Homo sapiens: one gene and its partner. The protein of the gene in region 2 purifies or fractionates together with the protein of the main gene of each other region. This does not show direct contact. Each region holds a gene or a part of one and is shown on either strand. Other genes may lie near its edges.

Evidence for each region. Proteins that work in one complex are often made in the same cells at the same time.
Region 1: the proteins of DRC3 (region 2) and PRKD2 purify together in Homo sapiens (affinity purification with mass spectrometry; one large-scale study listed by BioGRID and IntAct). This does not show direct contact.

Annotation. Positions count from the first base shown.
Region 1 is NC_000019.10:46,714,604-46,718,349, forward strand, and holds the start of PRKD2 (serine/threonine-protein kinase D2), read right to left. Parts: upstream 2,208-3,746; 5' UTR 1,768-2,207; coding exon 1,528-1,767; intron 1,448-1,527; exon of another isoform or gene 1-1,447. Other genes in the region: uncharacterized protein LOC107987269, read right to left, coding at 2,208-2,574, 3,196-3,373.
Region 2 is NC_000017.11:18,003,744-18,007,389, forward strand, and holds part of DRC3 (dynein regulatory complex subunit 3), read left to right. Parts: intron 1-619; coding exon 620-751; exon of another isoform or gene 752-761; intron 762-2,439; coding exon 2,440-2,510; intron 2,511-3,280; coding exon 3,281-3,404; intron 3,405-3,646. UniProt on the Homo sapiens protein: Component of the nexin-dynein regulatory complex (N-DRC) a key regulator of ciliary/flagellar motility which maintains the alignment and integrity of the distal axoneme and regulates microtubule sliding in motile axonemes.

The DNA.
Region 1 (3,746 bases), on a different chromosome or scaffold from region 2:
CCTAGTAGAACAGAAAGTGAAACTGCCCCGGTGGGGCCTCGGGAAGGAAGGTAAGCGGCCCTAACACACCTGGACCTGGCAGAAAAATAAAACTGGGGTGAAGCCTGAGCGGGGCAGGCTGGGGACTTGAGCACTGGACAAAGAAGTTCACCCAAGGGACAATCTGCCCCCGTACCCCCACTGCCACCAGCTTCCCATGAAGTGGGCTGAGTTGGGGTGGTGAGCTGGGCCTGCGGGATTGAGGCATTTGGTGGGCAAAACCCTATCAGTTCTCACTGCTAAGAGAGAGTCCACAGAAGACCAGGACTGCCTTGGCCCTGACCCCTTGGGAAGTTTTTCTCTAAGCTTCAGTTTCCTTGTCTGTAGAATGGGGGAGCTGGCCCAGTTCCCCACGTTTCTCTGATGCCCAAAGGATTCATTTCCAGGAGTCTGAAAAGATTCTGGAATTTGGATATTTTGGGACTCCAACATGCTCACATTATAGAATTATACATTCTAGATTCCTACCTGGTATCACTATACATTTTAGGATTTCAATAACCTAAATAAGCGGTAATCTAATATTTTAATATTCTAGGAGTCTGACAAGCTAGGACTGTGCTCTTTGAATTCTTTAGCATTCAAGGACCTCATCCATCCAGCATTCTAAAATTCTAACATTTTAACTTTCTAGGATTCAACAATCTAGGAATCTAATATTCCAGCATTTTAATGTTTTACTATTTCACAAACCTAGAATTCTAATATTTGAACACGAACATGGGGGCAATTTAATTGCCTAGGATGCATATTCCAACAAGTTATGATTCTAATATTCTAACATTTCTACAGTCCAGTACTCCAACACAGAAGCCCACTATTCTTTTAACATTTCACGGTTTAGACGTGGAGTTCCACCTGGTTTCCTCTTGCCATAACACCCAGCTGCCCACCCTGGGGACCCTGGTGTCCAAAATTAAGAGTAGGCTAACAGCACTGTGACTAGGAAAGGGAATAGAGTCCCCAGGGTCTGTAGGAGTGCCTGCCCCTCCACACATATCTCAGGCTTAGGGGAGGGCAGAATTGGGCTCCGAGACCTCACTTGCCCCTGGCAGCTAACTCAAGCACCTGCACCCACACATGTCACCGGATCACCATGGCCAGCCCGGGTTCAATTTCTCCTGTTTCCACCAAATGGGAGGCCCGGGATGGGCCTGGACGTGGAGGTCCGCCGACATCTGCTGCCCCTTCCTCCCCTCTCTACACCTGGCTGGCCCCTCCCTTCCTCCCTGTTTGCTGCAGAAAACAACGACATGCAGGGACATGAAATTTGGGGAGGCCTCTGGGGCACCCCACCCCTGCCCAGTCCTCTCTCAAAGGGATGGTGGGGAGAGGGGCAATGGAGGGGGGCAATGCCCCCTATCCCTCCATCACCCAAAGCTCAGGTCTCCTTCCTCCCTCTTCCGCACACCAGGCCCCAGACCCCTCTGCCAGCGCCCCCTCCTTCAACCTCTCCCCGAGCTGGATCCAGGGAGCCTGCGCCCTCACCTTCTGGTCCACGATGGAACAGGCCAGCTGCTTCACATGAGCCAGCTCGGAGGCGGCGGGCAACAGCACGAACTCGCGGGTCAGCCCGATCTGGATGTGAAAGGAGACCCCGGAACCCGGGGCCGGGATCTGGGGCAGTAGCGGTGGCGGCGACTGCAGCTCTAGGCCGCCGGGGGGCGGAGGAGACCCCGGCCCGGGAGAGCCAGGGAGCCCGGCGGGATAAGAGGGGGCGGTGGCCATGGGGGGAGGCCGGGGACCGGCCGCCTGGAGCCCACCCGGGACCCGGCCGGGGGGCCCCGGGGGACCCTGGGTTCTAGATCCGCGGGATCTCGTGAGCAGGTGGTGGGAGAGCGGGGATCCGAGAAAAGATCTGGCAGGCGGAGGGGACCTGAGGATGGCGGGGTCCTGGGAAGGAGAGAAAGGCACTATAGTGGGTCAGAGGCCCGGAATCCAGGGCTCCCAGAAGATCAGAAAGGAGAAAAGTAGTGGGTTGGAGGTCCCAGCGATTGAGATTCCAAGAAGCCTGAGAGGAAATCTAGTAGGTCGGGGTCACAGGGATCAGGAGAGCCCGCGATTCAAAGGCCCCTTCCCTAGAGGAGGGATTGAGAAGGGGGCAGAGGGAATCCCAGGATCCAGTGCTCCAAGAAGAGGATCCCACTCAGAAGGCGGCCCGGGGGAATTCACCTTGGGGGTGGAGGGCAGGAGTCTCTGAGTCGGGGACCGAGTGGATTCCAGAGATAAAGGGGTTCGCAGGGACCCGACCGGCCAGGGGATGGGCAGAGGGGTCCCGAGGGCCGGAGTGGGTAGAAGGGAATCTCACGAGTCGCAGAAGTTGGAGAAAAGTTCGGTCGGGAGCCGTGAGGAAGGGGGCGTTGCCGGAGCGGGGTTGGGTGGGGGGCAGGGAGGGTCGCCAGGCGCCAGTAGCTCTTTTTCCCCCTCCAAAGTTTAAGTCGGCGGCGGCGGCGGCGGCCCAGGAGGAAGTGTCCGGAGCGACAGTGCAGTCGACCAATCGGCGCGGGCCTCGGCGACGTCAGAGAGGGGCGGAGCCTGCCGAGGGGCCGGGGGCGGAAGGGGAGGGTGGGCCCGGGGCCTCCGAGTTGGGGGCTGGACCTCCGCCTCCAGGGTCCGGGACAAGGGATGGTGTGAGGGATGGAGGGCAGGCAGGCGAGACCAGTTCCTTCCCTGAACACAGCCAAGCCTGGAAAGTTAACTTTTCCCTCGGCTGGACAGGGAGGGGAAACACTATCACCCACCGCCGGTCGCAGGCGTCGGGCTTGGAGGCCACTGGCCCTTTAAGGAGGGGAGCCCTCTCCGGCAGGCGTCCGGCGCCCATGGCAGGGGACGGGTGGGAAATCGGTATCAGGTCCCGGCCCGCTCTCTGGGTTCGGCCTCTCTGTTCTCCGAGCGTCACCCCTGCCCTCCCCGCCGCGTCCCAGCCCAGGGAAGGGGGTGCTGCAGAGCGTCCCCCGGCCCCAGCCCATTTAACACATGGAAAGACCGAGGCCTCCAGATGGGTAGGAAGGGGCTCGCCTTAGGTCTGTCTCCAGCGATGGTGGGCAAGGTGCATGGCGCTAACTGGATGGGTGGGGAGGGTCCATCCCCCCGCCCACCCCAACCCCGCCTTAGGATAGTGTGGGGCTGCCCCGAGGGAGGACAGCACACCCATACCACTTCATAGATGCAGAGTGTGTCTCCTGGGGATGTGGAGTACGTGTGCGTGTCTTTCTCTCCATGTGACTTTGGGTGAGTGGCTTCTCTGTGAGCCTCAGTCCCTCCATCTGTTGGGACTGTAATAGGACTGACCCCACATGGGATGGTGGGAGCCGATGCCATGGTATACTGGTGCCTGGAAACGCAGCAGTTCAGTAAGAGGTGGTTGTCTCTGATAATACGCGGAAAGGGGTGGCCACCTCCAGCACTCAGGCTTTGATGGGTGGGCACACCCATTCAGTCACCCAGCAAGTATCTGTGAGGACCTACTGGGTGCTGGGTGGGCCCTGCTGTAAAACTCCAGCCGCTACAGGGGTCAGGCTTGATCTCTCCTCCCCAGCTAATAATCAAATAGTGGCTACCATTTAGTTTACACAGAATAAGCTGAAGCCTCAGAGAAGCAAAACGTCTTGCCCAAGATCCCAGAGTGAAGTTGCTTGAGGGAAGCTGCCCCACCCACCCCTTTGATTGACAAGTCAAGGCCTAGGTTTGAGCTCTAAGAGAAGGGC
Region 2 (3,646 bases):
GCCATTCTCCTGCCTCAGCCTCCCAAGTAGCTGGGACTACAGGCACCCGCCACCATGCCTGGCTAATTTTTTTTTTTTTTTGTATTTTTAGTATAGATGGGGTTTCACTGTGATAGCCAGGATGGTCTCAATCTCCTGACCTCATGATCCACCCACCTCGGCCTCCCAAAGTGCTGGGATTACAGGCATAAGCCACTGCTCCCGGCCTTTAAGTATCTTTAACTCAAAATAATCACTATGCCAAAGCGGCATATTTTGGTGTGAAATGCTCTGAACCCCATGAAAGCCATGGCTCCTTCTACCCTGCCTACCAGCCTCTAATAAAAACCTGAGCTTACAGGGAGTGAGCACTTGCTAGTGCTCAAAGAGCCTCACATGTGTTCTCTCACTTGTGTCAAGGGTAGGGGCTATCAATCGCACTTTACAGACCAGGAAACTGAGGCATGGAGAGGGTAGGTAGCTTCTACACGCTTTCAGAGCCAGCAAATGGCAAAGCTGAGACTTGCACTTGGGCAGGCTGACTCGAGTCCAAATTCTTACCCACAAAACCAAATTGCCACCTGCCATTATCTAATTACACTTAGTTGTTGATTCCTAAAGTGCAGTCTATTGTTTCTAGAGTTTAAGTGCCATTCGAGAGGAGTTGGAACTGCCCAACATTGAGAAGATGATCCTAGAATGCAGTGCTGACATCAGTGAGTTGTTCGATGCGCTCATGACGCTGGAGATGCAGCTGGTGGAGCAGCTGGAGGTAAGGCTGGGCCCTGGGCACAAGTGCCAGAATCTGGCGATGCAGCTGCACATCCATAGGTGAACTGTAGCCTTCATGGGCACGCCTCTGCTGGAAACGTCCAGCACGACTCAGCGTGGCAGGCTGTAGCTTTCTTGCTCATCAGTCCTGTTTGCTTTTATTACATTTTAATCATTTACATTGGAAGTGATTCTTGTGGAAAATGAGAGGTGAGCTCATTCTTCTGAAATGGTCCCCCTATCCTGGAAGTCAGTGGGGAGAGGTTTTTGATTAGACCCCTGGAGCTATCCGGGTACTCTAAAGGCAAAGCGCACCCCCACTTGGGGACCAAACAAAGACCCCTCCGCATTGCAGCCTGCAGTTGCCGCTTCTCAGGTGACGTGAGGAGGCTGCAACTCAGCACTAAGTAGTGAAAATGAAAAGCGCCGCTGTCTGAAATTCATTAGCAGCCAGAGTATGTGTTACAAGGCAGCGGAGGCTGGGAGTCTGAAGTGGTGTGATGAATTGAACCTCATCGGATGCTGCTGTGGCTGGGCCAAGTGATAGCACCTAATCAATTCCTCACACGTCAAGTGACACCTCAGACATGGGATAGATTTCCCCATCACATCACAGGGCAGGTGCTCCCTCCCTGCTGGAGAGCACAGGCACTGCAGAAGCAGCGCACAGTGCCAGGGGCGAGTGAGGCAGCAGCTCCCAGCCTTTTCAGGCACGGAGATTGCCTTTCAACATCCAAACATTTCCCAGAACCCATGTGCCATCCTACTTGTATTACTGGTGGCCAGAAAGCCACAAGCGCAATCATGCTTTTCAATGACCCTATTTTTATTCACGAGAACAGCACATACATGTGTTTGAAAATTATGTGAGGTGCTCACTCTGCAGACAGTACTCACATTCCTATAGATTCCACCCCTGCCCACCTTGCAGCCCCTGGAGTCTATAGCAGATGGGAGTGGGGCACTCCGAGAGTGGCAGGCCTGGAGATCACATCTTCCATTGTTCCTTCAATCAACACTAACTCCCATTTGGGCCTTAGGTGCCTTGCTAAGCACCACAAAACAGCAACTAACTGAAAGAGATCTGGAGTGCCAGCCCGCTCCTACTGAGGGCCTCCTCTCTGTCAGGCACCTTGCAAAGCATTTTGTGTGAAGTGACTCATTTAACCTCACCACAACGCCACAACGCAGGGATTATGCAGGTAACCTATTTCCCAGATGAGGAAGATAAGGCCCAAGGAGGTGAAATGCCTTTCCCAGAGTTACACAGAGTGCTGGAGCTGGGAATACTGACCCAGGCAGTCTAGCTCTTAACAGCTCACTCCACTGTTTCCCTGGAGGTGATGCACAGATGTCACTGGGAAACCCAAAGGAGAGGGGGTTGGCTGTGTGTGTGTGTGTTGGGCAGGCAGGTAAGGGGAGTAAGACCAGGACAAGTGTTCCTGGCAAAGTTCCGGTGACAGCATTAAACATTCAGATGGTGAGGGAGTTAATATGGTTGGAGAACAACAACTTTAGAGAGAGCAGAGGGGTCAGTTCACAACCATCTGCTCAGGAGGGTCAAGATGGGTGGTCTTTATGCTGAAGGTCTGTGATTAGAGGAGCTGGTTGCTAAATTTTGAGGAGTACCTTTTGCTCTGTGCTGGACATCTAAATATGCATGTTAACTGTGTTCTTTAACATTTCCAGGAGACTATAAACATGTTTGAAAGGAACATTGTTGACATGGTAGGACTGTTTATCGAAAATGTCCAAAGCCTATATCCTTTCTGTGATGACCTTCCCCATGGGGAGGTGCTACAGAGCCCCTGGGCTTGTCCCGGCCTCTGGACAAAAGAATGTTCCACAGGGTCTGAGGAGGTTTCCCGACCCTCAGAACAATGATGGCCTGGTTAGAGCTGTGGTTTGGATGCCCAGAGGGACAACATCCAAACTGTTTGCAGTAGGCTCCCAGCATGATTGTTCTCATATGAGTGATGTTCACTAGGAAATGACGCCCCCTGTGTTGCAGGCAAGCACACTCTGGGGTTGAGGCAACCCCCACGTGGAAGACACTATAAGGAGTACATCAGGTGAAATGTTAGGGTGAGGAGCCAACATCGGAGCATGGCCAACCCTTCTTCCACCCGAACTCAGGGCACTCCACATGGGGCAAACTGCTGTGCTCCAGCTAGCAGCAGCCCTGTGGTCCTGCCCTCCTGGGGCTCACAGTCCCTCAGGGAGACAAGTTGTAGAGGCAACAAGTGGTGCCAAATGCACAGGGTGAGAAGCAGTTAACCCAGAGGCCAGGAGCCTCCATGCAGGAGGGAGAGAAGAGTGTGATGGCAGGGGCCGAGGGTCCGTCCGAGGTGTGGGGCAGGGGCAGGGAGTCGAGGAAGGCCCAGGGTTCGGAGCTTGTGAGTGGACGGTGCTGCCAGCCAGAATTTCCGAGCTCGCCTTGGGCCCTTAAAGTCTGTCTCCCGCCGTCTGAGAGCATCAGGGACGCGCCGGGCCTGCTCCTCCCGGGCCTTTGCTTAACTCGGGGCTGCACGATGGCTCAGTGCCGGGACCTGGAGAATCACCACCACGAGAAGCTCCTGGAGATCTCTATCAGCACCCTGGAGAAGATTGTCGAGGGCGACCTGGACGAGGACCTGCCTAACGACCTGCGCGCGGTAGGCGGGGCGGGCTGCTCGGAGCCTGACAGATGTGGTCCAGCCCAGCTCTGTGGCTGGACTGAGGCTCTGTGAGTAAGCCTGACAACCTCCCAGAGCCTCAGTGTTCTCATCTGCAAAAGGGCACACTAACCTGCTTTACAGGGTTGCTGGCAGATAAAATAGGCTAACAAAGCACCTGGTGGGGCACCCAGTGGGGCCCAGTTAAAGAGGAGCTCATGATAATTAGATGGTTTCAACTT